3 linked regions of the Homo sapiens genome follow. The protein of the gene in region 1 purifies or fractionates together with the protein of each later gene. This does not show direct contact. Each region holds a gene or a part of one and is shown in the gene's direction. Other genes may lie near its edges.

Region 1 (10,250 bases):
ACAGTGTGCTAGGACAGTGTCCAGGGCTCTGTGGGACCAGGCAGGGGCACCTGATCGAGAGGCGTGTTGTTAGGGAGGGCTTCCTGCGAGCAGTGACCCACAGAGCAAGCCCAAGCTGGCCAGGCAGAGGGCAGCCTGTTGAAGGCTTTGGGCCACTGGGGCGCTGGGCTTGGAAGGGGGTGGGAGGCTGGCCAGAGAAGAGGGGGTGGGTGGAGGGCTGGCAGGGCCACATCACTGGGACCTCAGGAGCCCCTGGGTGCAGATGGCCACAGCAAGGGTGGGTGGAGGGGCTGTGCAGGGCTCATGCCCATGCCCAAGGGCACCACCAGGAGCATGGAGAGAGACCAGTGGGAGGAGTGCTGGGTGCCACAGCTTGGCGTCTGGCAGAGGGCCTTGCAGAGCTAGGGCTGTCTTCAAAGCTGGGTTTGATCTTTGGTTCCAAGTGCTTAGAAGTGTGCCTGGAATGGGGTAAGTGACCAGATAGTATAATGACCATTTTTCTTTGATCATGTTATCACATCTTGCCAGCTGGCTTTATGCCCTAGGAAGGCCGGGGCCTGTTCCCTGCGTGTTTCGTGGTGTGTGTTCTCGGTGCCCCTCCCTCCCTGATGCCCACGTTGACCTGCTGTTGAATTCTCCTGGAAGCTGGAAAACGTAAGGTCAGGAGGTGTTCAACCAGGAAATTGATGTGGCAGGCTGGAGAGAAGGGCCACGGGGACAGGGCCGGGTGGACCTGACGAGTCAAGAGCTTCCTTTGGCTGATATTCTGGCATAAATATTTAATGGGGGTGAGGACGGGACTTGTGGAACTGAAGTGGCCGATATTGATGTAAGAAGACTTTAACGTGCAGAGAAGGTCTGTCTGGGTCGTTGGCCTGCGGGGCTGCACGGGTGGGGAACGTGAAAAATAGGTGATGAAAATGTCACTGGGAGAGGCCCATTTCAGGGACGCTGCCCACAGTCTGATTTCTAAGGACAAAGACCCCCTCACTGCAGCTGTCCTGAGCTGCTGGGTGGATGGTCCTCACCAGGAGGAACAGGCAAGGCAGCCACACCCTGGTTCTATAACCCTTGGCACATTTTGGCCTTAGCCTCGTCTGCCATGAGGATGGTGGTACTTCCTACTCAGGTTGGTGGGAGAGTCCATGGGCTGAGAAGTTCTTTGTGTGTATTGAAAAGAGCTTGTTTTCCATCACCAAGCCAGACCACTTCCTTCCTTCAGTGCCTTTGCTCCAAAGCTCCCTCCTCCAGGAAGTCTTCCTTGATCAACACATCCCCTTCTGATTACTCAGTGTCTATGCAGCAACCAGCGTTTGTCGGTCCACTCAGGAAATATGAATTGAGCATGGCCACATGCTGGCTCTCCTGGTGCAGCAAAGAACAAGACAAAACAGCCTCTGTCCTTAAGGTGGAAAGAGGAGAGAGCATGTAAAAGAATTTGCAGGCTTTTTCTGGGCAGGTAGATAGCACATTGGAATCGCATGACAGGGCGAGGGACGGGAGTTAGTCCCACAGCTAGTGAAGGAGACTGTGCTGACTGAGCGGCATCTGAGCAGGCGCAGGGAGGAGTCAGGGAGTGAGGAGGCTCCAGGCAGGGACACCAGTGTCGGCAGCCTGGGGAAGGGCCGGTTGGGCTCAGAGGCTGGAGGGAGCTCAGGGGAGAGCCAGGTGGTGAGGGAGTGGAACATGGTGAAGGCCTTGCGTTGACTCTGTGGGAGGCAGAGCTGCCTGACGGCGGCAGTGGACAGTGGTGGAGTCTGACTTCCATGTTAAAGCCACAGTTTTGGCCGCTGGGTTGAAAACAGGTAGAATAGTGGTCCCCAACCTTTTTGGCACCAGGGAGTGGTTTTGCGGAAGACAGTTTTTCCATGGACCCAGGTGGTGGGTGATGGGGATGGTTTCAGGATGAAACTGCTCCACCTCAGATCATCGGGGTTTAGTTAGATTCTCATGAGGACCACATAGCCCAGATCCCTCGCAGGTGCAGTTCACAATAGAGTTTGTGCTCCTATGAGAATCTCGTGTTCCCGCTGATCTGACAGGAGGCAGAGCTCAGGCTGGAATGCTTTCCCGCCCAGTGCTCGCCTCCTCCTGTGCGTCTCGGTTCGGAACAGGCCACAGACCCGTGGCCTGGGGGTTGGGGACCCCTGGACTAGAAGGCAGAGTGAGCTGGGTGGCAGCAGAGAGCCAGGGAGGAGCCCTCGTAGGAAGCAGTTCAGGTGTGAGGACGCAGTGTCACAGGGGGAGGGTCAGCTCTGGACACACCCGACGGCAGGGTCGGCGGGGCTCACTGAGGCAAGGACAGAGGAGAGGAGCCGGGTGAGCCACAGTGAGGCCACCATCCGGCCTGAGCCTCTGTCAGCTGGAGGGGCTGCTTGCTGAGACGGGCTGCGGATGCTGCGGAGGAGACAGCCTTGGATGCTGCCCCCAGAGCTGGCTGGGTCCCACTGAGGCGCTGGGCAGCGGGTGAGGTACTGGAGTTGGTGGGCATGTGCCCCGGAGGCTGATGTGTGGAGGGGTGGACCTGGGTTTGGCCTGGGGGCAGGGGACCAGGGCTGCACTCCGGGCTGTCACCACGTTCAGGGCGGGGAGATGAGGAGCCAGTGGCAGAAACTGGAGCCGCCGATATGAAGGGACCACAGTGGGTTAAGCTGTGCCCGTTTCTTCTGGGAGGTCAGACAAGGTGATGACTGAGAATCACTGGGGACCTGGAGCTGTTTTTGGGCCTGGGAATAGAGGCTGGAGAAGGCGCAGAGGGCCGCCTTTCTCCCTGGGAGTTACCTTTGGTCCCGGCACACTTCTGGTTGGGTGTCCTGCCTGGCCCTAGGGTCCTCGAATGGGACTCTGCACTCAAGGCACCAGTGCATGTGGTCAGCCCCATGTGTGGTCCAGGCGGGGCCCCGCTTCCTCCTGCCTGCACCAGGTGTGGAGCCGGTCACAGTGCCTGCTCCCCTGGGCCGTAGCAGGGAGGAGAGGGCCTGTCCCGTGCATCCCAGGGTGTGCACTGCAGGTGATCCCGGCCATCAGAAAAGGCCGACTTGAAGGGGCAGGGGCTCTGAGACAGCTGTGCCTAGGCTGAGGCTGGGAGGAGCATACAGGCAGAGCGGAGAGTGCTGTGGTTGGCCCTGCCCAGGAGGGTGCAGCCTGGACCCCGCACCAGGTGTGCAGAGCTCAGAGGGCCTCAGTAAATGATTGAATGCCTGGGCCTGAGTGTGTGAACATTGGGAAGCTACGGAAGGGTTTTGGGCTGGAGGCCGTCGGACCTGAGTGCGAAATGTGCTGTTTGTCCTAGAGGGACGGTTCCCAGACCCAGGCAGGAGGCCTGGCTCAGCCGCGTGGCTGATTTGTGAGGAGGGAGAATTGGTCCATAGGTCTCTAGCCCTGTGGGCAGCTGTGGTCCTGTGAGTGAGTGCCAGGGTGTCCTCAGCACACACGAGCTCCCCCGCAGGCCTCTCCCTGCCTTTAATGGCACGGCACGCTGGGCTTGCCCAGGCTCTTCCCGTTGGCCACATCTCCCCACAGTCTTAGGAGAGGAGGTTATGCTGACCAGGCCACTGGCGGGCGGAGGTGATTTGTCTCTTTTTAATTGAATTATATCTTACATGTGCGTATCAGTTGGAGAAAAGCCCTCAAACCGCTTTTCCTCTGCTCTCACACAAGAGTCAACACAGAGGCCTCCTGTGGCGGACAGGCTGGGGATTTCTCCCCGCCAGCAAGCAGGCACTCAGTCCTGCAGCAGCACCAGCTGGATGTCCCCCAGTCCAGTTCAATTCCAGCACTGCCCACCTGGAGACAGCACGAGATCCCACGGGGCGAGGTCTCAGTCCCACAAGACTGCCCCCAGTTCTGATGCCAACCACAAGCCCCAGGTTGTTTTGCCTGTGTGTCTCACCCACTGGCTATAAATTGGGGTTCGCACACCCTCCCTGCCCACGTTTGACTAATTTGCCAGAGCGGCTCACAGAACTCAGGGCAACACTGACATTTCCTGGTTTATTATAAAGGATGTTACAAAGGCTTCTGATGAATACCAGAGGAAGAGACGTCTGTGGAGGATGGAGGAGGGTACGGAGCTTCCATGCCCTCTCTGGGCAAGCCACCCTCCAGGAACCCCCATGTGTTCAGCTCTTTGGAAGCTCCTCAAAGCCTGTCCTCTTGGGCCTTTTATGGAACCCTCATTGGCTAGGCATGGTGGAAGCATGTAGAAATGGGACTGGACAAAAGGGCTGTGAGCCCAACACTGTCAGTCGGAGTGGGGAGCCCAGGAAGGCCTGCCTGTGCGACATTCCTTCCTCCCCTTCTGAACTGGGGGTCTCATGACCCACACAGTCAGAAAAGGCAGGTCAGAGAATTTTTCTTTTTGTTTTTTGAGATAGATTCTCACTCTGTTGCCCAGGCTGGAGTGCAGTGGTGCAGTCACAGCTCACTGCAGCCTCTACCTCCTGGGTTCAAGCGATCCTCTCACCTAAGCCTCTTGAGTAGCTGGCACTACAGATGTATGCCACTATGCCCAGCTAATGTTTTTATTTTTTATTTTTTGTAGGGACAATGTCTTGCTATATTGCGCAGGCTGGTCTCGAACTTCTGGCCTCAAGCAGTCCTCCCGGTTTGGCCTCCCATAGTGCTGGGATTATAGGCATGAGTAACTGTGCCCAGCCCAGAGAGTTTCTTCATAGCCAGCTCCAAGACAGAAAGGCGGGGGAAGATTCAAGTATATTTTCAGTTTGTATGGCCTGCCTTGGGGAGAAAAAGGAACAGGTGAAAGGGGTGGGGGCAGGAGAAGGTCAGAGAGAGAGAGAGAGAGAGAGAGAGAGATGCTGTTTACTGAGACCTGCTTCTAAGGCCTGGAGTGGTCCAATATTATGACAAAAGACTGTAATAAGGGCTGGGGGGATAATGAGCCAGGAGCCATAGATGGAAACCAGCACATATCATAATGTAGCATGCTTCCATGTAATTCCCACCAGACCCAGTTAATAGCTCTAGACCCCGGAATCGCCTTTGTGTCTTCTCTGAATCAGTAACCAACCCAAAATATAAACACTGTTCTCACTTCTGTCACTATAGTTGAGTTTTGCCCATCCTTGAACCTCATGCCAATGGGACATACAGGATTGTACCCTGGAGCGCCTTGGGGTGGGAGGACTCCGTCACATCCTGTCTGTGGGGCTTGGCCATGCTGTGTCTGCAGTTCCGTCACATCCTATCTGTGGGGCTTGGCCGTGCTATGTCTGCAGTTCATTCTTTTTTGTTGCTGTGTAGTACACCATGGTGACTGTCACAACTTACTCATTCTATTGCTGATGGGTATTTGTGTTTCCAAGTGACTTTATGAATGATGTGGCCAAGACTGTTCTAGAACCTGCGTACTGGTGGACAAGCACTGGCTTCCCTTGGGTGTCTCCCCAGGATAGTTCCTGGATCATGGGCTATGTGTATATAGCTTCAGTAGATACTGGGCAGACGTCATTTCCTCATCTTGGCTAGCGGGTCATTCCCCCGACCCATCATTCCTGCGTAAACTGCCAAGTTCAGCCTCAGGTTGGGCCGAGTCACCCACCTGTTACAGCCCCTGAGCCACTTCCATAACAGGGGCTGGGTTCTGTTCTGTTCTGTTCTCCTAACAGCCCTGTGAAGCATCCTGGCCCCTCTGAGAATCAGAGCCGACTGGCCCATGACCCAGCACGGGGGATTCAGGCTGAGACCGTGCGGGGCGCGCTCCTCTTCCCAGACTCAGTCGCCCTGGGCCCCACCTGGGGCTCTTGAGCCCCTTCTTGGGCAGCAGGTGTTGACCCGAGCACAGGGCCGGGCGCGTGGGCCTCCTCTGAGCACCCCGCGCTGGGGCTTCTCCCCTCCAGGCACCAGCTTGCTGCAGGAGGTGGTCTACTTGGTGAGCCAGGGCGCTGACCCCGATGAGATCGGCTTGATGAACATCGACGAGCAGCTCCCGGTCCTGGAGTACCCACAGCCGGGCCTGGACATCATCAAGGTACCCAGGGCCAGCAGCACCTGTCCCAGCACCTCTTTAGGGTATTTCTACCGTTACACCCTGATGATTGACAGTTGCTCCTGGGGGCTCTGTGGATTAGGGGAGAGCAGATAGCCCCAGATAGCCAGGGGAGAAGCTGGCAGGCCTGAGCTGGCAGTGACCTGGAACCCGATGAGGGCGTGGGTGACACATCAGCGTCAGGGAGTCTGTGAAGTGGAAAGGAAGTCAATGCCTGGGGGGCACAGGGCTGAGGGGCCATTTGTGGGGAGCAGGCCCTGGGCCTCCCCCTCGCTTTCCCCTGGGGGCCCTCCTCTGAGGGAGCTGGGTAGGATGTGTTTGCATCAAATATTTGGTATCAAGAATGAATAAATGTTACCCCAGAGCCCTGCTCCCCGCACCCCTCAGACACACCCACAGGCACCCCCACCCCGTCCGCTGCACCTCTTTAGTTCCAGCCTCACACCTGAATGGGCCAGAACTGCAGCCTCCACCACACCTGTCCTCCTCCCTCTGGAGCAGCATTCCAAAACCCAGCTCTGAGAGTGCCATCCCACCCTGTGTCATGCTCTGAGAGTGCCATCCCTCCCCATGGCACAAGACCCCTGTGGCCCTCCAGGGCCCCTGTCTGCACCCCAGCCTCTCGGGCCTGAACGGCCATTTTGCTCTCCTTGTCCGTGCGGAACCATCTGGGAGTCGTTCCGTACTGCCGTGCCGAGGGCCACCGCGTTCAAGGCACTGCTCTTGGCATTGGGGGCAGCAGTGACTGACAGCATCAGGCCCGGCCTTTCAGCCCAGGAAGCCATAGTAGCTAGCCAGCGATCAGCGCTGGGAGGGGAGCAGATCAGGGGGGGACCAGCAGTCTCCTCTGGGGATGTCTGAGGCAGGTCCTGAAAGAGGAGAGGAGCAGAGGGACCCGTGAGCAAAGACCCCACGGCACGAGGGGCCTGGCCTTCCAGAGCAGTAGGCAAGCCTGGGGGTTGCAGGCAACGGTTCCGGGCTCTTTGGCTTCATGAGGGCTGGGCCCATTCCTAGGGCAGCTGGGAAGACGGGCTCTGAGCAGAGAGCACGGTGCTGGCTGCTTTACAGGACAACCCTGGCTGCTGATGGGAAGGCCCGAGGGGCAGGTGGAAGCAGTGAGCGCATCAGGCCAGGTTGCTGTGCGGTCCAGCGCCAGCCTGGCAGCACCCACTGGGGCTGGTGCCTCCTGCTGCCTCTGCTGCCCTCCGACGCCACTCCAAGCCGGGGCAGTAGCTCCCAGGCCCCCTGAGCAGATCCTGTGGCTGTGGCTATGATGGGTGGACTCCCCAGGCCAAAGTCAAGGACCCTTGTCTCTACCGCCAGGGTCCAGCCGGGGTGTGCTCATGTCTCCAATCTTTGTCTCAGGTGACAAGGGAGGCTGTCCTGGCTGGGTCCGAGACTCTCTCCAGGACAGGAGACCAGGGCATGACAGCCTTGCCTCCTCTTGCTCTGACCCCTCCCTACTCCTGGCCTCACCTTTCCCTCTGACCCCTACCGTTCTCCCCTGGCCCCCACCCCTTCCCTCGTCCTCTGGTCCCCCTGCTCCTGGCCTTACCCCTCCCTCTGGCCTCACCCCTCCCTCTTACCTGACGCTCTCCTGACCCCTCCGCTACCCTAGACCCGCCGTTCCCTCTGATAACTCCACTTCCCCTGAACCCCACCCCTTCCTTCCTCCTCTGGCCCCCTTCCCCTTGGCCCCACTCCTCCCCTTGGTCTCACCCTTTCCTCTGACCTGCCTCTCCCTCTGACTCCACGCAGGAACTGACCTCTCCCCGCCTCATCAAGAGCCACCTGCCCTACCGCTTTCTGCCCTCTGACCTCCACAATGGAGACTCCAAGGTAAGCTGGCACCTCCTCTGCCTCCCGAGATGAGTCCCCACCAAGAGGAGCCCAAGGTCCCTGTGCAATACACATGCAGGTCCCTGGCACTTACCTGGCCTTGGGGGCTGTCTTCCCAAGGAGCCCACACGTGAAGATCCCTTCTGAGGTGGTCTTGGGTCATGCGTCTCTAGCATTTTACCCAAGTTTTTAACGACGGGTTGGTTTTTACCTCACAGTCAAACATGGCTGTGGCCAGCCTAATCCAAAGCAGGCCAGCAGGCGTGTACCTGCTTTGGGCCGAATTCTCTTTGTTTTTCAATTGCATCAAATGCCAAGGCCTGTGGGGTTTTTTTGTTTGTTTGTTTTTTTGTTTTTGAGACGGAGTCTTAGTCTGTCGCCCAGGCTGGAGTGCAGTGGCATGGCTCACTGCAACCTCTGCCTCCCTGGTTCAAGCGATTCTCCTGCCTCAGCCTCCTGAGTAGCTGGGACTACAGGCATGTGCCACCACACCCGGCTAATTTTTCTATTTTTGGTAGAGACAGGGTTTCACCATGTTGGTCAGGCTGGTCTTGAACTACTGACCTCAGGTGATCTACCCACCTCGGCCTCCCAAAGTGCTGGGATTACAGATGCGAGCCACCGCACCCGGCCAGAGGCCTGTGTTCTTACCACCAGGATCAGGGTTGTAAGTTTTTTGTCTTCTGCAGATTTTAAAGTAGTTCTAGAGGACAGAAATAAAATGCTCAAGTAATTTTCCTGGCCAGCTCTACTGCATGGACAGGGCACCTTTCTGCTGAAACAGCGAAGCAGCAGCACCCAGCAGCCGTGCACATGGGCCCCAGCTGGACGCTGGAAGCAGGTGTTGGTTTGTGAGGTGCACCAGCAGGTTCAGGGAGGCTGGCCTGTGTCGGGGCAGCCCTGCCTGGGAGGGAAGGAGACACGGACTCATCCTGCTCCTGTCACCCACAGGTCATCTATATGGCTCGCAACCCCAAGGATCTGGTGGTGTCTTATTATCAGTTCCACCGCTCTCTGCGGACCATGAGCTACCGAGGCACCTTTCAAGAATTCTGCCGGAGGTTTATGAATGATAAGCGTGAGTGTTGCAGCCTGGCGGCATGTTAGAACCGGAGCCGTCTGTTGTCGTGGACGGCCTGGCAGGTGCTGGGTGCTTCCCCGACACGGTCTCCAGTTCTGACAGTGACCATGTAGGTCAGGCCCGCGGTCACTTTACAGATGAAGACACTGAGGCCGAGGGTCGTGAACGTGGCCGAGATCCTAGAGCTGGTGTGTGTCAGAGCAGGTCCATCTGAACCCAGAGCCCTTCTCTTCTACCACACTGTCGGGGTGTCTGAGAAGTTCCCCAGTTAAAACATCCATCCTTCCTACCTGGGTTTCAAACAGGGAGAGAATGAAAACAGTAAAAATGGAGGCCCAGGTATCACTACTGTTAGTGATAGGGCCTGGAGTGGAGACTGGAGCTAAGTGTGACAGGCATGGGCCTTTGGCTGAACCTCAGGCACAGGCAAGCTACTGGGGCAGGGCACACTTGTGCCCGCTGGGAGGAGGACAGCCGGGCTGAACCTCAGGCACAGGCAAGCCTCCGGGGCAGGGCACACTTGTGCCCGCAGGGAGGAGGACAGCCGGGCCGAGAGTGCCATGTGCTGTTCTCTGGCTTCCATTCCAGCCCCTGAGGAGGAGCGAGGCTGGGTTCCACCCTGCCCTGCTCTCAAGGAAGGCGGGACCAGGCCTCTTGTCTTGGTCCCACTCGCTCCCAGTCCTTACTCTCTTGCCCCGCTGGGCCACCTTTCCCTTGGGAGTGGTGGCAGAGCTCCTCAGTGCAGTTCTGTTCCTGCCTTCCTGAGGGGGCTCCCCATGGCCAGCCATGGCTTTGGGAGGTCCTGGGACAGAAAGTGGGCAGTGTAGGGTGTGCAGGCAGAGGAGCTTTGAAATGTGTCATAATAGCTGCACTTTAATTAAATCTACACTGAGACTCTTCCCTACCCAAGGCTGAAAATACACTTTCTGTTTTATTTCCCAACGGAAGTGATGCTGAGCCGCATTGTTCAGTGTGGCTTATCGGGGGCTCTGCAGGGGGCTTATGTGACAGGATGAGGATGAATCATGTAGCAGAGATCCTGGAACGTAATGCCCTCGAGTTTAAGTGGAACTTAGGGCAGTGGACCTAGAGCTGCTGCCAGGCCTGGTTGAAGGGGACCTCTTGGCGGGGCGGTGCAGGGCGCCACAGGCTGACTCTGTTGCTTGCAGTTTGAAAACCCACGAGGGCCTCAAAGCCCTGGGATGATTCTGTTTCCTGCCCTTGAGCCTCTGCTTCCACTGTGCCTGCTGAGAAGTGGCCCTGCCTGCAAGGGGTAGGAGGCCCCAGACCGCACCCTGAAGCCCCCTGAGCCTGCTCTGGGCC
Region 2 (10,250 bases), 360 kb from region 1:
AAACCAAGGGGAGGAGACTCATGGACCCTGATCACCCACCTGTGGCAGCTCCCGTGGCCCTGGGGAGTGGAGTAGGGCCCTGGGAGGAGGGAGTGCCAGCTGGCAGATAAAGGGATGCAGCTGTGCAGATGTAGTAACAGGTGTCAGCTGCAGGAAGAGTGGCTGTTTATGAAGTCCTACTGTGTGCCCAGTCACTGTGCCATGGGGCCATGTGTGTTATCTGCTATGGAATTCCATCTCTGCAACAACCCCAGCTAGGGAGGCACAGAGAGAGACGGTGACTCCCCTGGGGCCACACGGCCAGGAGAGCAGTGACTCAAATCCAGGTCTGTTTTATTTGAGAACCATGATGTAAAACGACAGCTCCCTCTGGACTGGTTATTCTAAGAAACTTTTGTGAAAAAAAAAATTCCCTGTTTGGCACAAAGATAATAGCATCGTAATGAGGTGTTTATTGGATCTGTGTCTGCAGAGGACGTCTTTGATGAATTATTTAAGCTGGCTCCGGAGAAAGTGAACGCAGTGAAAGAGGTAGGAGAGATCAAAGCTCTCAGCGGCTCTCAGGCTGCCCACCCCACCCACTGCCCACCTGCGCTGTAGGAGGGAATCACGGGTCCTCCCATCACACCTGCTGTGTGCTAGGCCCTTGTTCTTCCCTGGTTAGGCCATCGTGAACTTTGTCAACCAGAAGCTGGACCGCCTGGGCCTGTCTGTGCAGAATCTGGACACCCAGGTAGGGACTGAGCTGCGGCGTCCCCAGGCAGGGCAGGGCCACTGGCCGTAGGAAGGAAAGAGGGTTCTGCAGGCCCTGGGAACCTGCTGTGTGGTGGGGGTTGCATCACCTCTTGGAGCCTTAGGGTCCCCCTCCCCGGTGGGACTGTTGCTGGCAGGCAGCAGTGGTCACCAGGGACATGGTGGGATCCCGGGGGTGGAGGTGTGGGAACACTTCACAAAGCTGGAGTCACCTCGGCTGTCACTGCTTCTCATTGTTATAATTTTATTTTATAATTAATCTCAGACTAGCTGATGCCAAGACTTGAAGCATATGAGTCTTCCCTGCGTGGTTGTGTTCGCCCAAACAGAATTTATTAGATTTGTCCCATGTGCCAGGCGTAGGTGACAGCGCAGCCCAGCCGTCTGCAGGCTCCATGTCTCTCACAAGCACCCTGAGGAGCCCAGCCCCTCCCCCGGCTGACTTAAGTCGAATTTTCCCAGGAGCAGGAGCAGAATCTCAGGGGGTCAGCACCCACCATGGGCTGTGGCTTTCCACAGTGAAGCTGTGTCCCTGTAGGCTTCCCACACTGCAGGGGAGCAGGGGGTGCACAGTAGCAGACCGGCTGCCAGCCCGGGGCCTGCAGAGTGGGCATGGAGTCTGCTGGATGCCAGTGGCCTGAATGGGACATGACGTAGGCATCTGGCCACCTGGGTTCTGCTGGGTGCTGGGGTCTGGGGTGGGGAGGGAGTCTGGTCCCAGATGGACCAGTTGGCTCATGAAGATCGTAGCCAGAGCTGCTGACCTCTCAGAGAGACTCTGGATGGGCATTGGCTGGGGAGGGAGGGGTTAATGTACTCCCATGCCTAGTAGCTAAAACCAATAAAGCCCTCACTATGTGCCAGTCCCAGGGCAAAATGCTTTCCATGTTAACTCATTGAATCCTCTCCATAATCCTCTGAAGTGGGAACTGTACTACCCCACTTACAGAGGAGGATGTTAAGGCACAGAGAGGTTAATTAACTTGTCTAAAGTCACACAGTGATAAGTAGTGGACCTGGGATTTGAACCCAGGCAGCTGGGGCCAGAGTTAGTGCTTATAACCACCTCACATGGTGGCCACGTGAGAAGTTTGTGTGTGATATGGTGTGGCAGCATGGCAGGGTGGAAGTATCACGCTCTGTAGCCAGACAGACACACATTTCCCTCCTGCCTCCACCACTTATGGGCCCTGGGGTCTGCTGAGAACCCTCCACATTTGCTGTGTGACCTTGGGTGAGTTACTGGACTTCTCTGAACCTCAGGCTCTTCTTCTTATAAAGTGGGTACAAGATAGCAACTTGGTAGAATTGTGAGTGATACATGAGCTGGTGAGCCCCACGTGTTTGGTATATTACCTGGCACGCTGCCGGCATGAAATAAGTGAGAGATTTGTAGTTTTATTATATTTTATGTGGGTATAAACAGGATGATTTCTGAGATTTACATTCTACCTGTTCTATCTGTATCTCTCCCTTGGTAAAATAATGGGTTTCAGAGACTCATGGCATGTGCAAAGGTGGTATTTAGAGACTGTTCAATAAAATGGGGTAAGGAAGTCCCTTGCATTTCAGTTGTATTACCAAGGAATAGCAGCAGAAAAGATTTCAGGCCCAAACTAATAACATCGAAGCAGACTTAATATGAGGAAATTCCATTAAGGGCTTCGAATGGCAGTTCCTTCCAATATCCCATCCTGTGTTTTGTATCTTTGAAGAGTCTCAATAGGATTATATTAACATATGATATGCTGGTGGCAGGGACGACAGCTTTATCTCTGAACATACAGACAGAACAGACAGAAATATTAATGTGGCAGCCAGCGAGATGAGCCTGGTGTGCTGCTCTCTGCCTTTCTCTGATGGAATAATTTTACACTTAACTCTGTTTTCCCCTGTGTTTCTGTAGCTTGTGGAAGAGCGTGCTGTTTAAAAACTGATATGAGGCTTTTCTGCAGTAAGTTTAGAAAGCACTCTTTTCACTGAGCATGTACTATATACCAGGCAGCCTGAAACCACTTTTTACCTGCAACCCTGTGAGGTCAGGCATGTCTTCCCCACTTCTCATCAAGGCACCAGAGGCTCAGAGAAGTTGTATGACTTCCTTAGGGCCACACAGCCTGTAAAAGACAGAGTGGGCTTCGCCAGGCTTCTTCCATGTGATTGTCTCCAGTTCCTTCCTTTGTAGTTTGCAGATGGGGTCATCTTACTCTTGCTGATTGGACAACTTGAAGGCTTCTTCCTGCACTTAAAGGAATTCTACCTCACTCCCAACTCTCCTGCAGAAATGGTAAGTTTTCCAAGGATTTTTCTTTATGGTCTACCTCTAGGTGAACAGATATACAGAACTGGCATGACCAGTCTGTTTATTCACTTCCAGGTGAAGTGAAGGGTGTAGGGGAAGCTTATTTGTCTATATGTCTGCCTATCCATCCATCCATCCATCCATCCACCTATTCACCTATCCATCCATCTACCCATCCATCCATCTACCCATCCATCCATCCACCCACCCATCCATCCATCCATCCATCCATCCATCCATCCATCCATCCATCATCTACCTATCTATCCATCCCCATCTACCCATTATCTACCTACCTGACCGCCTATTAGCCCTCCTGTTCACCTACCAAGCCACCCACCATCTATGCACCCATCCATTTAACTGCCTACCTGTCCATCCACCTAACTGCCTACCTGTCCATCCACCTACCTGCCTGTCCATGCACCTATCTTCCTGTCTGTTTATTCATCTACCCAGTCCATCCATCCATCCATCCACCCACCTACCTGCCTGCCTGTCTACCCACCCATAGGAAGTTTATCTATATGTCTGTCTGTCCATCCATTCATTCATCCATCCACTTGCCTACCGGTCCATTCACCTGCTTGTCCTGTCATGCATCCATCTGTTTGTCCTTCAATCCATCTTCCTGTTCTGTTTATTGATCCACCCAATTTACCCATACACTTGCCTGCCCATCCACCCACCTGCTCATCCACCCATCCCCTACCCACACGCCTGTTCCCCCATTCCCTGAGGGCCTGTTTAGTGCCAGGCCCTGAACTGCATGGGATGTTAAGTTGATCCAACATAGCTCTTGCTTTCAGGGAGCTCTCAGTCTGTGCCCACTGTTCTCCTAGTGACGTGTGGTCTTGCAGGGCCACAGTGAAACGTGTTGGTTCAGATGCCTGGGTCAGAGGAGGGGCCTGGAAGAATGAGGGCTTAGAATAATCTCAAGGAGTCAGGAAGGGCATTGCATCAGAGGGGAGCCGGGAAGTTGATCAGGGATTGGTTTGCAGAGTTATCAAGGAAGGGCTTGCAGAGGGGAGGGAATAGCATCAGCAAAGGCTCAGAATGTGGCAAGAACAGGAATGGGTCAGGGAGGTGTAGGTGCTTCACTCTGGCTAGAGGGGCTGGAAGGGTGGGGCCTGACCTGGGGGGATCAGCAGTTCCCACGTGGACCCTAGAGGCTGGTGGACTGGCTGGGAGCTGGCTGCCTGCTTCCAGGCATGAGGGCTGTGGCTTGACCTGGGGAAGAGGGATGAAGAGAGTGATGGAGGTGGGGTGAGAGGGCAGGTGAGCCTGCAAAGATGCAGCTCCCACCGCCTCTTCCCCAGGTACAGCCTTCAGTGCCCGCTGGCTAGTCCTGCCTCCGCCCCCGCCAGGCCCCTGTGGTGTGTGCCACCACTTCCTCCAGCTCCCTGGGCTCTCCCATCTCTGGGCTTTGCCACAAGCTGTTCCCTTCCCAGGAGCACCCTTCCTACCAGGTAGGCCTGGCCCATGAGAAGGGATTTTACTACTTTCCAAATAAGGAAAGAGAGGTCCACGGGCAGCCAAGGCTTACCCCGGGTCACTGCCAGGCAAGAGGCCTGAGTCTTGTGCTCTTCGCCACCAGCTCCCTGCCTGCCTGGACCTCAGGTTTTCTGTCTCTGAAAATGGGCTGACAATCCCTGCCCCCTACTCAGGCCACACAGGTAGTAAGAAAGAGTTTGGAGAACCATCGAGGAGAAAGCATTGAGGGACATGTGGTCCCTAGTATCCCCAGGCTTGCCTCTCACAGGAGGTGACATTGGAGGCGTGCATCCCAAAGGACAGGCTGGAGTGTTGGTGGCTGGTGGCGTGCCCAGGATCCCGGGCAGCCAGCTTATCTCCATCCATGCCAGGGTTCCCGTGGCCTGGGGCAGGAGGACCTCTTTATCTCTCTGCAGCAGTAGCTTTTTCTAAAGAGGTGAAGCAGGAGGCAGGGCCACATGCCCCGTCCCAGGGCCAGCCTCTGGGGCTGTTTCTGGGAGAGACAAAGGCTTCCATCCCTTTCACATGCTCAGGGCGTCCTTGGCCCTGGATCAGGCCTCTTGGCCTATCTGGGGCCCAGTAGCAGGTGAGGTCCCCCCTGGACCCCTACCAGACTCCCCCTCCACCTAGGCCCTTCTTCTAGGCCGCTCCCCTTAACCTTCCTGGACACCCACCCTTGTGCCTCTCCCCTGCTTCAAGTGGAGCACCCAACTGCCAAGCCCCATCTGCCTCCCCGACCACGTCCCCTCCTCCCTTCCTGCCGACTCCCAGCCACAGCCACAGCCACAGCCACATGACCTCTGGCCCCCTTCCAGCTCTCCAGGGCCTGGTCCTCCCCCATTCCCTCACATCCACGCAGGCTGTGCTCTCAGCCCAGCCTACCCTGGCTTTGCTTCCCACCTGCTTCCCTGGGCGGGCGGCCAGCTCTGCCCACCTTCTCAGCTCCTCTGCAGTCCCTCGGCGCTCTGTGGGGCCCTGTACCACAGTCCACACTCCCTTGGGGTTAGCTCCCTGCACTTTGCCTCTCCTGGCCCTCTCCCCACTCACCCTCCCTCCTTGCCCCTGTGAGAGCGGGGCAGGGCTGCATCTCCATTTTACAGAGGGGAGCCCAGGGCCCGAGAGGCTTACCCAGTACCACCCAGCTGCTCAATGGCAGCCTCACACCAGCACAGCCTGCCGCCCGCAGCCTGCCATGTCCCTCGCCCCCACGGGGATGCATCTTGAGTGGGTGTGGCCTCCACCTTCCCTGGAGGCCAGGTGCTCTGGACTTGGTTCCCAAGAGCTGGGATGTTGGGTCAGAGCAACGAGGCCGGGGCAGTCAGTGTCTACGGTCCTGGTGGTTGTGGCAGGCACGGTGCCTGCTGCTTCCTAGGTTCTTCCATTCGGAGGAGCTGCATCAGCCAGCCATTGCCACAAACGTGCTGCTTAACAAACCACCCGAAAACCTAGGGGCTGAAAACCATGCTCATTTCTTCCCACAGACCGGCAGGTCGGCTGAGTTTAGCTGCTAGAGGCTCAGCTAGGCTTTGTCACTCCTCCGAGGACTGGATAGGGATCAGGCTGTCGTGGCTGGGTGGCTCGGCTCTGTGCCACAGCCTGCCATGTTCCTTCTGGGACCAGCAGCTGGCCCGGGCACGCTTTCCTCCTGGCAATGGCAGACACATGAGAGACCAGGCAGAAGGCATGAGGCCCTGGCTCAGAATGGGCAGGCTGCCACTTCCATCGAAGCAGGCCCTGTGGCCTTGACAGTGACATGGGACAGCCCTGCAAAGTGTGTGGGTGCAGAATTGGGCCGATGGTGGGATCTCCCACGGGCAGTGTGGACGAATGTGCTAGCAAATCCTCATGTTGGGTCTTGGAGTTAGGAACTCTTCCCATCCCCACTTCCACAGAGGAAACAGTTGAGAGAGGCACAGAAGTCTGGCCCAGAGCACACAGTGAGTTAGGGTCCTCCCTGTTTCCCTCCTGTGGAGCCAATGTGAGTCTCTGGGAGATGGAGGGGTGGCAGGGCTCAGTGGGGTTGAAGCCAAGGCTGAGACTGGGGTCAGAGCCTGCCTCGGGAAGGCAAGGCACTGAAATGTGAGCGGTGAGGAGAGAAGGCGGAGGAAGGGGGCAGGCAGGACCACCTGCGGGCTGAGGGCCTGGGGCTCGGAACCCAGCTCAGAGCCACTCTGGGGTGCCCCTGGGCTGCAGGGCCTCTGCTCAATCTGTTGCACCATCCAAGCCCCAGTTACAAGACGGGAACAAACGTGCAGACTTCCATGTTGCTGTGTGCAGCCGCTTTGCTGAATCCACTGATTTTAGAACTTACTTCTGAATATGAGTCAGATTAGATGTGGGGGAAAAGCAGCAGCCTCTTAGCTCAGACTCCAAGAATGAATTTTTACAGCATATTGTGGGCAATCTCTGCTGCAGGAATGTGTAATCAAAATGCTGAAGAGGTCGTCAGCTGAGGAGGGCGGGAACACCAGCCCTTGCTGAAGGTGGGCCTCTGCGGAATTGTTATCTTGGCAGAGTAGCCTCTTGAAATTGGATTTCTCATTATCAGACCCTCTTTGCTGATGGTGTTTATGTGAGATAGTTATTCATTGTGGGCACGGAAGTTAAGGATGGAGGGAGAGAGGATCATTCGCTCCCAGAAATAAAATCCCCGGAGCCAGGAATCCTTGGCGTCCTTCCACGTTAAATTACTTTCCCCAGGAGGATTTGCACGTATCCTCCCGGGTTGTAACCTTCTCTCAGCTCCGTGGAAGGTGGTAGTTTTATCTTCATCTCAAGCCACACGCGGAAGAAAAATCTCTGGACAGAGCATCATGAGATAGCTCTGGAGCCAGGGTCAGCTCTTACTGGGGGATGATCTTTTGTTCAGATTGAGTGTCATTGAGGAAGAGTGTGACAAACAGAAGCAGATGTCATAATTTTCAGTGTCGATAGCAATTCCCAAAGCATAAGCTCTATGAGGGCAGGAGGTCTGGTCTGTTTTGAGCACTGGTTGTATGGCTAGCACATAGTAGATGACAAGTATTTTTTTAAATAAGTGAATGAACGAAGTGTTTCCAAAACATTGGTCCCAGGAGGTGTTCTGTGACAAATGGGTTCTATGAATAAATAACTTGGGGAAACATGTCTAGTCTTGAAGGTTCATGCGGCCCACCAACACATTCAAGGCTCTAATAAGTCCTGCAGTGAAGGACTTCCATAGTATTTTATTTAATCCAACAATTTCTAAAAACGTTTGGCCACAGATATCCCCTTTCCTGTCCATCTTAGATCACAGTTTGGGAGATGCTGGCTCGCTGAATGTATCAAAGGCGGAGCTTTGAGGCAGGAGAGCACAGTGCGGAGTCTGGAACCTCAGGTTCCTCAGGGTCTTGTTCTCACTCCGACATTTACTCTCCATGTAACTGCAAATAATATTCGTGATGAGAATGCGAACAATAGCAACAATTGCAACCCTAGTTTCCCAGAATATTCCAGTCTAGGAGGAAGAACTGGGGACACAGTGATGGGAACTTCCGGTGATGCTCTGGTCTGTCCACTCGGAGCTTCCCATCCATCTTGGTCTGGACAGTCTCAGAGTTTCACCCCGCATTGGCCCCTGCAGCATGCTGCAACATTGGTGCCGTGTGATAGCCTTTGTTTCGCTCTTGTCACCCAGGATGGAGTGCAGTGGTGCAATCTTGGCTCACTGCAACCTCCGCCTCCTGGGTTCAAGCAATTCTCCTGCCTCAGCCTCCCAAGTAGCTGGGATTACAGGCACGTGCCACCACACCCAGCTAATTTTTGTATTTTTAGTAGAGACAGGGTTTCACCATGTTGGCCAGGCTGGTCTCGAACTCCTGACCTCAGGTGATCTGCCCACTTTGGCCTCTCAAAGTGCTGGGATTACAGGAATGAGCCACCGTGCCTAGCCTGTTTCTTCTTGTTGGCTGACTACAGAGGAGCGGCCCTGCTGCTGCTGCTGGGCACCCTGCCCATACACTCCTTTCCATCTGGGACCCGCCCTCCATCTTCATGTCCCCACGTGGAGAAGGACTCTGCTCACCCACTTCCAGCTCCTATGCCTTCATCATCCTCACCTTCAAATCTTGCTTTGTGGCTTCAATTCTGTGTCCGTCATCACATTGGACGCACATGGCAGCCTTGGAGAGGAAGGCAGACAGGTGTATCATCCCCGTGACACAGATGAGGCACCTGAGGCCCAGCCAGGATGTGTGACTTGTCCGAGGTCAGACACTTAGTGGCAGGGATGGGGGTGGCAGTACACAGACATCCAAGCTAGATCCCAAGAGTCCTCTTGCTCGGGCCATCCAGCAGGTGGCTGGAGGTGGCCTGGGCCAGGCTGGCGTTTCTGGATGAGTCTTGCCTGGCCTTGCTCATCCACCGCTCGGCCAACCTGGCCTCTTGGCCCCTGGCGGGTTGCCATGGGAACTGCCCTGTCCTGGTGGGGCTGGTGTGGCCAGGCAGATAGGGAGGGAACGGGACCAGCACAGCTGACCCCCGGGCTGGGATGTCCACCCCGTCTAGTGGATCTACGGGTGGCTAAGACATTGAAGGGAGGACCTGTTTGAGGTCACAGTGAACCAGGAGTTCATCCCTCTTCACCCACACCAGGCTGCTGCCCTAAGGCAAAGGGCTGGGACCTACTCTGCTTGTAGACGAGGCCCAAGGGAGAAGCTAGAATGGAAAGGGAGGGGACCTACTGTGGGAGGGCCGGCAGGCTCCTGGGCTCTCACCATATCCTGTAGCAAGGCACAGGGGAACTGTGGTGAGCCCACTTTGCAGGGGAGCAAGGGGAGGCCCTGGGCAGGGACTAAGCTGAGCTCTGAATCACTGGGGGACTTGACTGATGCCCGGGCGCTCTCCACCCTAAAGGGAGCCATCTCTGAGACTGCACCCCAGGCAAGGGGTGGCGGAAAGGACAGCCACCTGGGTGGGGACCGCTCCAGTCTCTAGCCTGCTTTGCATGAGCATTGGAGCGGACAGACCTGGTTTGAGCGCTTTCTGTCTCGTGAGCTCCAGTGAGCCCCTTGGCTCCTCTGAGCCTTGATTTCCTCACTGTGCTTTGCCCTGGGAAACAGCTGTTCTCAAAGGTGCTCTGCCACCCCAGGCCCTTGCTCCTTTCCCTGGGTAGTTCTCCCTGCCTGGCGGGACTCACCACCAGGCTTCACCTCCACCAGGAAGCCTTCCCTGATCCCTATTGGGTATCCTCCTTGGCGATTGCCTTTTTCACGGGCAGTGGCCCCTGGACGCAAGCGTGTGCCCAGTGTGGTATAGCACCTGCTCAGAGTGGGGCCTGTGAGTGGCTGAGGAATGAGACATGGATTGCTTGTGTGACAGAGTGAGCTGTAGGGAGATGCTGGATGACCACGGATTGTGGTCGTGGTCAGGGATGCCCACCTTGGATGGGAGTTTAGGCTCATGATGGACATCACAGACAACAGGAAGGGCTTGGCACTTGGGACCCAAGGCCTGGCCTGGGGCTGCTGCTTGTGCCCACATCTGATAGGGCCTTGTCATCATAGCTGCACAACGTCACCCTGGCGCTGGAGCTGCTGAAGGACGAGGGCCTGCTCAGCTGCCCTGTCAGCCCTGAAGGTGAGTGCAAGGCAGATGCCCACACGGTGGCCAGCCCTGGGTGGCAGCCTTGTGCGAGAGCCACAGAACAGGGTGCAGGGCATTGGGGGATGAGCACGCATTG
Region 3 (10,076 bases), on another chromosome or scaffold:
TACAACGTCTTGCTTCTGTGTCACATTTTCTACTACTCTCTTTGACTTTCCTGCCTCCCTCTTATTAGAACTCTTGTGATTATTACATTGGATCCCATCCTATAATCCAGGATAATCTCCCCGTCCTTAATTTAATTAATCCCATTTGCAAAGTCGCTTTTACCAGGTAAGGTAACAATTCACAGGTTCTGGGGATTAGGATGTGGACATCTTTGAGGGTGGTCATCATTTAGCCCACAACAGTCAGCTAGAGGCATTAGGGACCCTCAGATCCACCCAGGTACCTCCTAATATGCACTTTCCTTGTGATCAAAAGAGACTGGTTACCTGGTACATTGTTTAAATCTTTGTTTTTGTTTTGTTTTGAGATGGAGTCTCACTCTGTTGCCCAGGCTGGAGTGCAGTGACACAATCTCAGCTCACTGCAACCTCTACCACCCAGGTTCAAGCTATTCTCCCCTCTCAGCCTCCTGAGTAGTTGGAATTACAGGCACGTGCCACCACTCCCAGCTAAATTTTGTATTTTTAGTAGAGGTGGGGTTTTATCATGTTGGCCAGGCTGGTCTTGAACTCCTGACCTCAGGTGATCCACCCACCTTGGCCTCCCAAAGTGTTGGGATTACAGTTGTGAACCATGGAGCCTGACCTTGTTTAAATCTTTGGATCCAAACAAGTACAAAGCCAATTCTGAATTTACCAGTCAAATTAGCTATTGAATTCAGTTTATGATTCTTTGAATTAGGTTTCTGTAATCTCTAACCCAAACATGCCTGATTTGTACACTTGCCCAAGGTCACACAGGAGCAGGCTGAATCTCTCCTCTTTACCCTATGAGGGTCACTGATGAGAATGCTCATTTGTCCTCTATTTGAAGGGGACTCTTAACTGTCAGCACTCTCCCTCCCAGCCTCCACTTCAGCCCATGTTGGCCACAGGGTCCTATGTTCAGGGCCACACTCTTCTCTAATCCTCACCAAATACTCAGCCTGTTTCTTCCAGTGCTTTTCTTTAAAATGATATTCACTGGATCACTAGAAGGCCAGGCTCTAGATGCTAGAGCCACAGAGATATACCTTTCCTAAGGTGTAAGAAATATTTTATATTTAGAGGGAGAACAGATAATTATCCCCTCCCCTGCCTCCAACATTGAAAAGCATGCTTCTTGTAAGATGCAGTTAAATTTTGAAATTCTGTTACATTAAACCCTTAATACTCATGAGCTACCCATAGACTTCAGTATTGGTTTCCTGGGATAAACCATTATTTACTTCAGGAAACTGTATCATTAGAATGGCAGCCATTATTCCATTCTTGGCATAAAAGTAAAAGGAAAGCATGAACATGGCACACGATAATCAATTTAATCTGATTTATACCAGGTGGCAGGCAATTATTGTTTTGTGAAATAAAATATATGGCTGTTGATTGATTTTGTTGTGTTATGATAGTCTGTATTTCTGTAACAGTTCACTTTAGCTGGGACGGCCCTTCAATTTGGAATTTTAATCCCTGAAGTGAACCAATTGGGATGATCCTGTCTCTTCAGGCTTGTTTAGGGTTGCACATTCCCTGGGTCATTGCTCTATTCCTTATAGAAAATTCTATGGGTTATTGGTAGGATTGTGACTGTTGTATGTCAGTCTGACTAGGCTAAACTAAATTTCCCTGAATTTTCTTTCCTGAATGATTCCTGAAAAAGAAACGTGAGCCAAAGTAAACATTGTTCTGTGAGCTTGGTGGGGCGGAAGTGAAGCAGCTATTTTGTAGCTGGCACACACTGCTGCCCGTCTGCTGCCTCACCTGGTGCATGGGCAGCAGCTGGGCCTGCAACTGTTCCACCTCCCTGGATCTTCCTCCAGCTTCTATGATCCTGGGCCGGGCTTCTTTGGGAGGGCATTCCAACCGCTAAGGTCAGAGGCACTGAGAGCCGACGCGGGTTTCAGTTTGCCCCCGTGTGTCCAGCTTATACCTGGGAACCCAGTTTGTTCTTGCTCTCCCCCTTTAAGTTTCTATCCATCATCCCTTCCCAACTTCCTGCCCTGCAGACTTCAGGCTCCAGCATCAAATGCAACAGCAGACATATAGAGGCAGCTTCACTGGCACCCACCATTGTGTAAAGTCAAATCCCTTCTGATTGATCAATCAATTGATCGATTGATAGATGGATTGCTCCATCTCTTAGTGGTTCTGCCTTTCCCTTCCAACCCTAATTGAAACAATACCCCTGTCCCAACTATGTAAGTCAATGTTTGTTTAAGATTGGCTTCAAGCTGCCAGGATCAACATTTTTCTTTTAAATGTATTTCTTGTTTTTATTCAGTGCTCTGTGACCATCTCTTAGCCATAACATTAGCTTGTGGCTTGGCTTTTCACATATGATTAAGATTAAAGATCAAGATTTTATGACTTTTCCCCAAATCCTGATTCTGGACCTAAGATAGCCTTAACATTAAGCATTTGGTATTGGACAAATGGAAAGTGAATATTTACATAATTTTATTTTGATTCTTTATATTCTTATATGAAAATCTTTTCATTACCTTTTTTTTGGCTTTAGATTTAATAATGGTTACATTTGTACAATGTCCTTTAGCATTAAGAATAATAACTAGGGGCCAGGTGTAGTGCTTTATGCCTGTAATCCCAGCACTTTGGGAGGCCAAGGCGGGTGGATCACCTGAGGCCAGGAGTTCGAGACCAGCCTGACCAACATGGAGAAATCCTCCCCGCTACTAAAAATACAAAAATTAGCCAGGCATCAAGGCGCATGCCTGTAATCCCAGCTACTCAGGAGGCTGAGGCAGGAGAATCTCTTGAACCTGGGAGGCAGAGGTTGCAGTGAGCCGAGATTGTGCCACTGTACTCCAGCCTAGGTGACAAGAGCGAAATTCTTCTAAGGAAAAAGCCACAAGATCCAGTAAACTACATAAAATAAAACAGTCATGTTTCATACAGTGAACATTCTGCAATTGTATTTGAAGTAAGGATGATAGTGCAAATTCTAACATACTTTCTAAGTCATAGGTTGTTACAAATAATGGGAGACAACTTACCTCTTTATGAACAAAATAGCCTATGTTTTATCTAGTAGTTGGATAGACTCATCTTGTTGCTAAATGTGTCTCATGTTGCCGTCTACTTGTAGGAAAAAATAATACACGTTACAAACCATTTACCCGACCTCCATTATTCCCTAGGGCAGCATAAAAGCATGTTTTTAAATAAATGTAAACACATGGTTAGCCAAGGATGACAGAACTCTGGATCATTTCTCTATCTTTCCAAAACTGAAATAATTTTAAGGCCATAAAAAATGTCACAGCATGGTTTTAGAAAGAAGGCAATCCAAAAATAAAGACACGAATTCCCATAAAAGCTAGGCTATGGGTATGAGGTGCCCGTTGCCATGGGGTAATAGAAATCTAGGAGTAGGAGAGACAATGAATCTGAACTGTCTCAACTTTGCTATGTCCCTGGATTGAGGTACTTGGCAGCCCCGAGGGAACGGAGTGATTGGAGGCATGACCTTTGGAGCTAATGTATTTCTGTACTCCTGTGTTTATCGCAGGGCATTTGGTTGAATTAGTGCCACTTCCTGCCCTAAGGATCTCACAATCTAGTATGTCCCCATTTGTTCCTAAGCTTGGTCTTAGTTTCTGCATTCTCCCATATGATTCCACTCAATATCTTCTCAACAGTAAGCTTGTAGTTGAATTTCTTGGGAGGACGCTCCCAGAACATCATCCTCAGCAGCTGCAGGGTGTCTCTGGGGCAGGTCTTGAGACTGCCTTAGGCTCTCTGCTGCCCTCTCCTGGCCACAACTGTCTCTACTGCCAAGGTGCTAATGCCGAACCCCTGTGGGATCTCTGGTCCAAGGAAACATCTGCACACAGGCCAGGGATGGCGCTTAGCTTCATCTGTGCTGCAAACTCTCATCAGTAGGCTTGCTGGCTCTGTGACCTTACTAGCTGAACTCCTTAATCTCTCTGCACTTCATTTTTCTAGTCTATAAAATGGAGATAACAACAGCACCTACCTCAGAAGACTGTTATGAAGAGTAAGTGTATTACTATTTATGAGTCAATTAGGACAGTAGCTTGCACATAATAAGTGTGATATGAGCGTTTGTTAAAACAGTTAAACAATCAAACAAACATAGAATTAGAGTGCTGACTAGAGAACAGCTGGTGATGACGCGGGAGGGAGATCTAGGATCTATTAGAGATGTCTTCCAAGGACAAGGGAGAGGGGATTATACAAGAGTGAGGTGTTGTCCCTGATATAGACCTGAATGGGCTCAGCCCTAGACACACTTTTAAAGGTGATATGCTTACTACAACTCTTCAACACCTATTCTTCTTCTCTTTAAAAATGATCTGAAATTTATTCTCTTGGGGATAAAATTTATTGTATATATTATATATATAATATAATTCTTGTTATGTATGTGTATATATATAATTATTTGTGTATATATGTGTATATATATAATTATTTTTATTGCGTGCTACTATTCCAAGCCAGATGCTAAGTGCTGGGGACACATGTAAGCAAGTTAAACTGGCCCCTCGCCAGATGAAACTTAGTTTGCAGTTGGTGAAACAGACATTACAGAGATAATTGTGCAGTTGCTTATTTAGTTACAACCATGAAGAATACTCTGAAGGGCAAAGACAATGTGTAACAGAGTCCTGTCCTAATCCTGGCGGTTAGAGATAGTGTAGTTAAGGAGATGATATTTAAGCTTAAAAACAGAACTTAGGGAAGCTGGTCAGCCCAGGGCTTGGGCTTGAGGAAGAGAAGGGCATTTCACATAGAAGGAGCTGTGTGGGCAAAGGCTCTGGAACCATTTTGTACTATGAGAAATCCAAAAAAGAAAAAGATTTAAAAAGGAAGGGGTGGTCAGTAGCAGTCATTTAACATAATCACCTGTTTCTCCCAAGGGCAGATTGCATTGGTCCTCTACATTTTACCAGCATTGTGTAATATCAGTATGGAATAGAAAGGATTGTAATTCTGATTGGGGGAGGAGAAACCTTCATGGCGATAATTTTATTAGGGTTTTAAAGGATCGGCTGGGCTTCAGCAGACATAAACTAGAGGATAAGAAGCTATAGACTAAGTAAATTACTCTGAAATTATAAAACTTTTGGTATTAGCAAGTTGGTAGAATTTGTTTATTTCATAGGTCCCTTCTCCAGCCTGCTGGAAGCACACCATCAAATCTGCAGCCAGAACCATTTACAGTAAAGTTGTCCTGTTTATAGGTTTTTTCCATAAGCTGTTTTATTTTTTAATAAATAAGAAACAATGCCATTGTCCTTTACAAAATAGCTGAGGTTTTACTTGAACAAAATCTGTTTGGAAATGTTAAGCTGGTTACACAGAACTAATATGCCTCAAGGTGGTCATTCTCTCTGGATTAAAGCTGTGGGACAATTGTGGCTCCTGTTACAGGGAAAATTACAATGGGCCATTATGAAAAGGGACAAAAATCTCTGTTCCCAGAGGGGGACTGACAAGCTGAAAGTCCCTCTCTACATGCCAACACAAAAGCCTGATTGCTTCAGATTGTTTGTTTATGTAAATCAAAAGGATGCCTTTAACTCTGCCAGGGAACTGGCAAGCAACAAAGAAGGTGGTGATTGGCTGGATTCTTGCTCATGGCTCCTGGCAGATCTGACAAATCCTCTTGCTTTTGCTCTAATCTCTGTCTGGATACTTTTAGGAAAAGAACCTTGTTATTATGTACTAAAGTGAATAATTTGTGCTCTTAGAGTAGGAGTTGGAACTATAGGACTTGAAGGCAAGAGCAGGTATCTTATCAAGGATCTACTCACTCAGTTTCCCTAAAGCTCTCTCTCCAGATCGGATTCAACCGCACATCATGACAGATGTTCCGGCTACATTTACCCAGGCTGAGTGTAATGGGGATAAACCACCTGAAAACGGTCAACAAACAATCACTAAAATCAGTGAGGAATTGACTGATGTGGACAGCCCCCTGCCACACTACAGGGTAGAACCCAGTCTGGAAGGTGCACTCACCAAAGGAAGTCAGGAGGAAAGAAGAAAATTACAAGGGAACATGCTGCTCAACTCATCCATGGAGGACAAAATGCTAAAAGGTAAAGTGTTTCCCTTCTCCTTAATTTTCTTGTTTTGACTTATAAATTTACCCTGGATTTTTTTGATAAACTATTATCGAAATGAGCTGGACACCCCAAAAATGTAGCCCTTTATTCTACTACGCATAGTATAAGGACTAAACCTCTGCCTCTGGTGAAATCCAGGCTGGTCTATTTGACAGCTGTGACCCCAGACAACTTTCTGTCTCCCGAAGCCTGAGTTTTTTTCACTAGAAGAAGGCGGAATAATAATAATAACTACAAGTCTAGGGTAAGTATTGGCTAAATGTTAACTACTGTATTTATTATGATTATGGACAGCCCCATATTATTTGAACAAAGAGAATTCAAAATGTTAAAATTTCCTTCTAAATATAACTGAAGTTCTCTGAATTTATGGTTCTATATCTTATATATATATCTTATATAAATATTAAAGGAGAGATTACAATCAATAAAGTGATCATTAAGTAAATAAATTGAATTGATAAAGAATGAATCCAAAGAGTGAAATAGTAAATTTTAATGATCAGATTTAAAATTAAAGACTTCTACCTAGAGTTTAAATTGATAACTTATTAACTGTTGAACAATAAATATTTTAAATGTTAAAATACTGATTTTATATTTTTTTCCTAGAAAACCCAGAAGAGAAACTCTTTATTGTTCATAAGGCTATCACAGATCTTTCTCTCCAAGAAACTAGTGCTGATGAAATGACATTCAGAGAAGGTAACAAGAACTACAGTTTTGTACACAGAAATTGTTTGACTGAGTATGGATGACAGTCTTTCCATGAAATGTTGCATGAGCGTGGGGTTGACAAAGCAATCCAGGCAATGACTTCAAATTTTCAAAGCTGCTGTAGGCAGATAAGAGAGTCTTAACTTATCTGTGGGTTCCACCTTATAAAGCATTCCAGACTGTTCAAGGCTGAGGCTGCATGGAATGGCATAGCTGATTGGCATACCAACGTGATGTCTATCTCTTAAGTTAGTCCACTGAGTCAACCCTACTTTTTGATTTGGTGTGTCCAAATCTGTGTGTGCACCTTGTGAAAGGTAAATGTTTCAAAAACGGGTCTTTCCTAAAAGTCTACAATTAACATACAGCTTTTTTTTTTTTTTTTGAGACGGAGTGTCACTCTTGTTGCCCAGGCTGGAGTGCAATGGTGCAATCTCGGCAGACTGCAACCTCTGTCTCCAGGGTTCAAGCGATTCTCCTGCCTCAGCTTCCTGAGTAACTGGGATTACAGGCACCTGACACCACGCCCAGCTATTTTGTGTGTGTGTGTGTGTGTGTGTGTGTATTTTTAGTAGAGACGGAGTTTCACCATGTTGGCCAGGCTGGTCTTGAACTCCTGACCTCAGTTGATCCACCTGCCTTGGCCTCCCAAAGTGCTGGGGTTACAGGCGTGAGCCACTGTGCCCGGCCAACATACAGTTTAAAGTAATCTCACGAAATGATTTACTTTATAGGCCTCTAATGTAAATACAAAATTGTTAACTATTTCATGTCAAAGAAAGACAGGGTGATAAAGTTAATTTTAATTGTGTTCTTTAAGAAAATGGAAGAATAAAAAGAACATTGAAGTGATTATGTTAAATTTTAAATAAACTTAATAGACTAAGAGACACAAAATCCTTTAGATTTTTCTAAGACACCTACATTTAAACAGTTCCCAAATAAAGTGTAGGATAAAATCTATTAATTAATCATTTCTTTCCTCTCTTGCAGCCATACACATCTTATGTCAAATTGAAGTCAGCTTGCTAAACCTAACCAATTTAGCTTTGTTAGGACTTTAACAGGCAAAATATTGAAGAGACTATTGGTTGAAATATTAGAACATCACATAAAATAGTAGATGTCAAGGAGGACAGGAATGTGATTGGCTATTTCCTACATCTGCTCCCTTTGCCTGAACACCTCTCATACTATGTCTGCTTAGCAGTGTAGCAACACTTAAGGAAATATGTAGCAAGCAATAGACAGTGTCAAGCTGTCACATTACCAGAGATAATTTTTAAGACTTAAGACTTCACAATATGAACTTAATAACCTCTTTGCCCTAATTATTCTGCTTCCAATGTAACAAGTTCTCAGAGGCAGAATCTCAACCTCCTATCATCTAGAGCCCCTTTCAAATGTTTGATCAGGAGTCCATTGCAGGTAACAGTTGTCTAGATCTTTCATTTTCATCAAATGGAGAATGAAAGCAGGCTGTAGTTTTCAGCTAGATGGTCTCGCTGGTTAAGTTTTCCCTCAATGAATCCTTTCCTGTTTGATGGAGTATGTTTTTCCTCCATAATAGAGGCACAGATTTTGGTGTGTTTTATCTTCACAGTGGCAAACAGCTATAAAATCTTCAAAAAGAATGTTACTGGATTAAAACATATAAAGATGCTAAAAATATTGAGGAAAAACTATAATTTAAATTCAAGGAGTAATTTTATATGTGACAATCTCATGGCTGAGTCATGAATATAAACAAAATATCACTTACTTTGGTTCTTGTGGAAAACAAAATAAAACAAAGCATAAGATTATGGCAAACATTCTAATGTGTATTTATGGATAATGTTAGGAACATTGACGGGACACTAGCGACCTGATAGCAGCTGTGTGTAACAAATTAGGGTGATCACCCATCTTTACTTCTATCTCTGTAAGTTTACTATGTATTCCCTAGAGTGAGAAAACAACAAAAAAATAAGAGAACTGAACACCTTGGATGAAAATGGAATTGTGAACATCTTTCGGAGAGAGTAGAATATTGTGGAGGAAAAAGACAAAGAGGAACATTGCCTCTCACCTTACTTATAGACTCTCACGGTGTCAAAAGAAAATGGTGAACTCAGGCCTGACAAGGGGTGTAACCCAGACAGATTTCTGAGTTGTGTACACCACAGACTGAAACTTCCCACAGAAGCCTTGCAGGGCTGAAGGCTCAGAGAACAACCTCAGCTTCCTTATAATTAATTCTTACCATATTCAATAAATATTGTTGAGGGTATGTTGGTATGATCTAGCTGTTTGAAAAGTGACCAGACATGGACAGTCATCATTTTCAGTATTGGAAACGAGCATTTTTTTCTTTCTGAAGTATTTTTCTAATTTTCCTTGAGGTGTGTGTGTGTGTGTGTGTGTGTGTGCGTGTGTGTGTGTATGTGTGAGAAAAAGATAAGTCCAAACATTTCCTTTTACATGTGCACGTATCCAGTTGTGACTGGCTAGACAAGAATTTTTTTTTTTAAGTGTGTCTCAGGGAACACCAGTCTCACTAAATACAGTAGTCCACAACAGAGTTCCATAGACAAATGAAGTTAGGTTGTTGACTTTCTTACAGATTTACAATACTCGTTAGCATTTCAAAGGCTTGTAAAAATTCTGAAGATGCTTATTTAACTGTATTTAATGCAGTGTTTTTGAAATTAATTTGGCTGTGTAGCCTGTTTGTGCAAAACATATTGGTAACCCACAGAATCATATCCCATAAAACATGTGTTGGGAAGTGATTAGCAAGAAAAATTATTTGGAGAATAACAGACTAATGGCTGGGTATTTTGGAATCTCTACACATCTCATCTACCAATTGATTTTGCTACAGGGCATCAGTGGGAGAAGATTCCTCTGAGTGGCAGTAACCAGGAAATAAGAAGACAGAAGGAGAGGATTACTGAGCAGCCTCTCAAAGAGGAAGAAGATGAGGACAGGAAGAACAAAGGTCACCAGGCAGCTGAAATTGAATGGCTGGGATTTCGAAAACCTAGCCAAGCTGACATGTTACATTCTAAACATGATGAGGAGCAGAAGGTTTGGGATGAAGAAATTGATGATGATGATGATGATAATTGCAATAATGATGAAGATGAAGTTCGAGTGATAGAATTTAAGAAAAAACATGAAGAGGTTTCTCAATTTAAAGAGGAAGGTGATGCAAGTGAG

What was found.
Region 2: the proteins of SULT4A1 (region 1) and PARVG purify together in Homo sapiens (affinity purification with mass spectrometry; 2 studies listed by BioGRID and IntAct, with this or other methods). This does not show direct contact.
Region 3: the proteins of SULT4A1 (region 1) and ERMN purify together in Homo sapiens (affinity purification with mass spectrometry; 2 studies listed by BioGRID and IntAct, with this or other methods). This does not show direct contact.

Annotation. Positions count from the first base shown.
Region 1 is NC_000022.11:43,837,541-43,847,790, reverse strand, and holds part of SULT4A1 (sulfotransferase 4A1), read left to right. Parts: intron 1-5,858; coding exon 5,859-5,989; intron 5,990-7,765; coding exon 7,766-7,846; intron 7,847-8,797; coding exon 8,798-8,924; intron 8,925-10,250. UniProt on the Homo sapiens protein: Atypical sulfotransferase family member with very low affinity for 3'-phospho-5'-adenylyl sulfate (PAPS) and very low catalytic activity towards L-triiodothyronine, thyroxine, estrone, p-nitrophenol, 2-naphthylamine, and 2-beta-naphthol.
Region 2 is NC_000022.11:44,195,683-44,205,932, forward strand, and holds part of PARVG (gamma-parvin), read left to right. Parts: intron 1-472; coding exon 473-531; intron 532-664; coding exon 665-733; intron 734-2,659; coding exon of another isoform or gene 2,660-2,683; exon of another isoform or gene 2,684-2,885; intron 2,886-2,938; coding exon 2,939-3,040; intron 3,041-10,074; coding exon 10,075-10,147; intron 10,148-10,250. UniProt on the Homo sapiens protein: Plays a role with ILK in promoting the cell adhesion and spreading of leukocytes.
Region 3 is NC_000002.12:157,321,454-157,331,529, reverse strand, and holds the start of ERMN (ermin), read left to right. Parts: upstream 1-5,705; 5' UTR 5,706-5,855; coding exon of another isoform or gene 5,856-5,887; coding exon 5,888-6,128; intron 6,129-6,767; coding exon 6,768-6,860; intron 6,861-9,738; coding exon 9,739-10,076. UniProt on the Homo sapiens protein: Plays a role in cytoskeletal rearrangements during the late wrapping and/or compaction phases of myelinogenesis as well as in maintenance and stability of myelin sheath in the adult.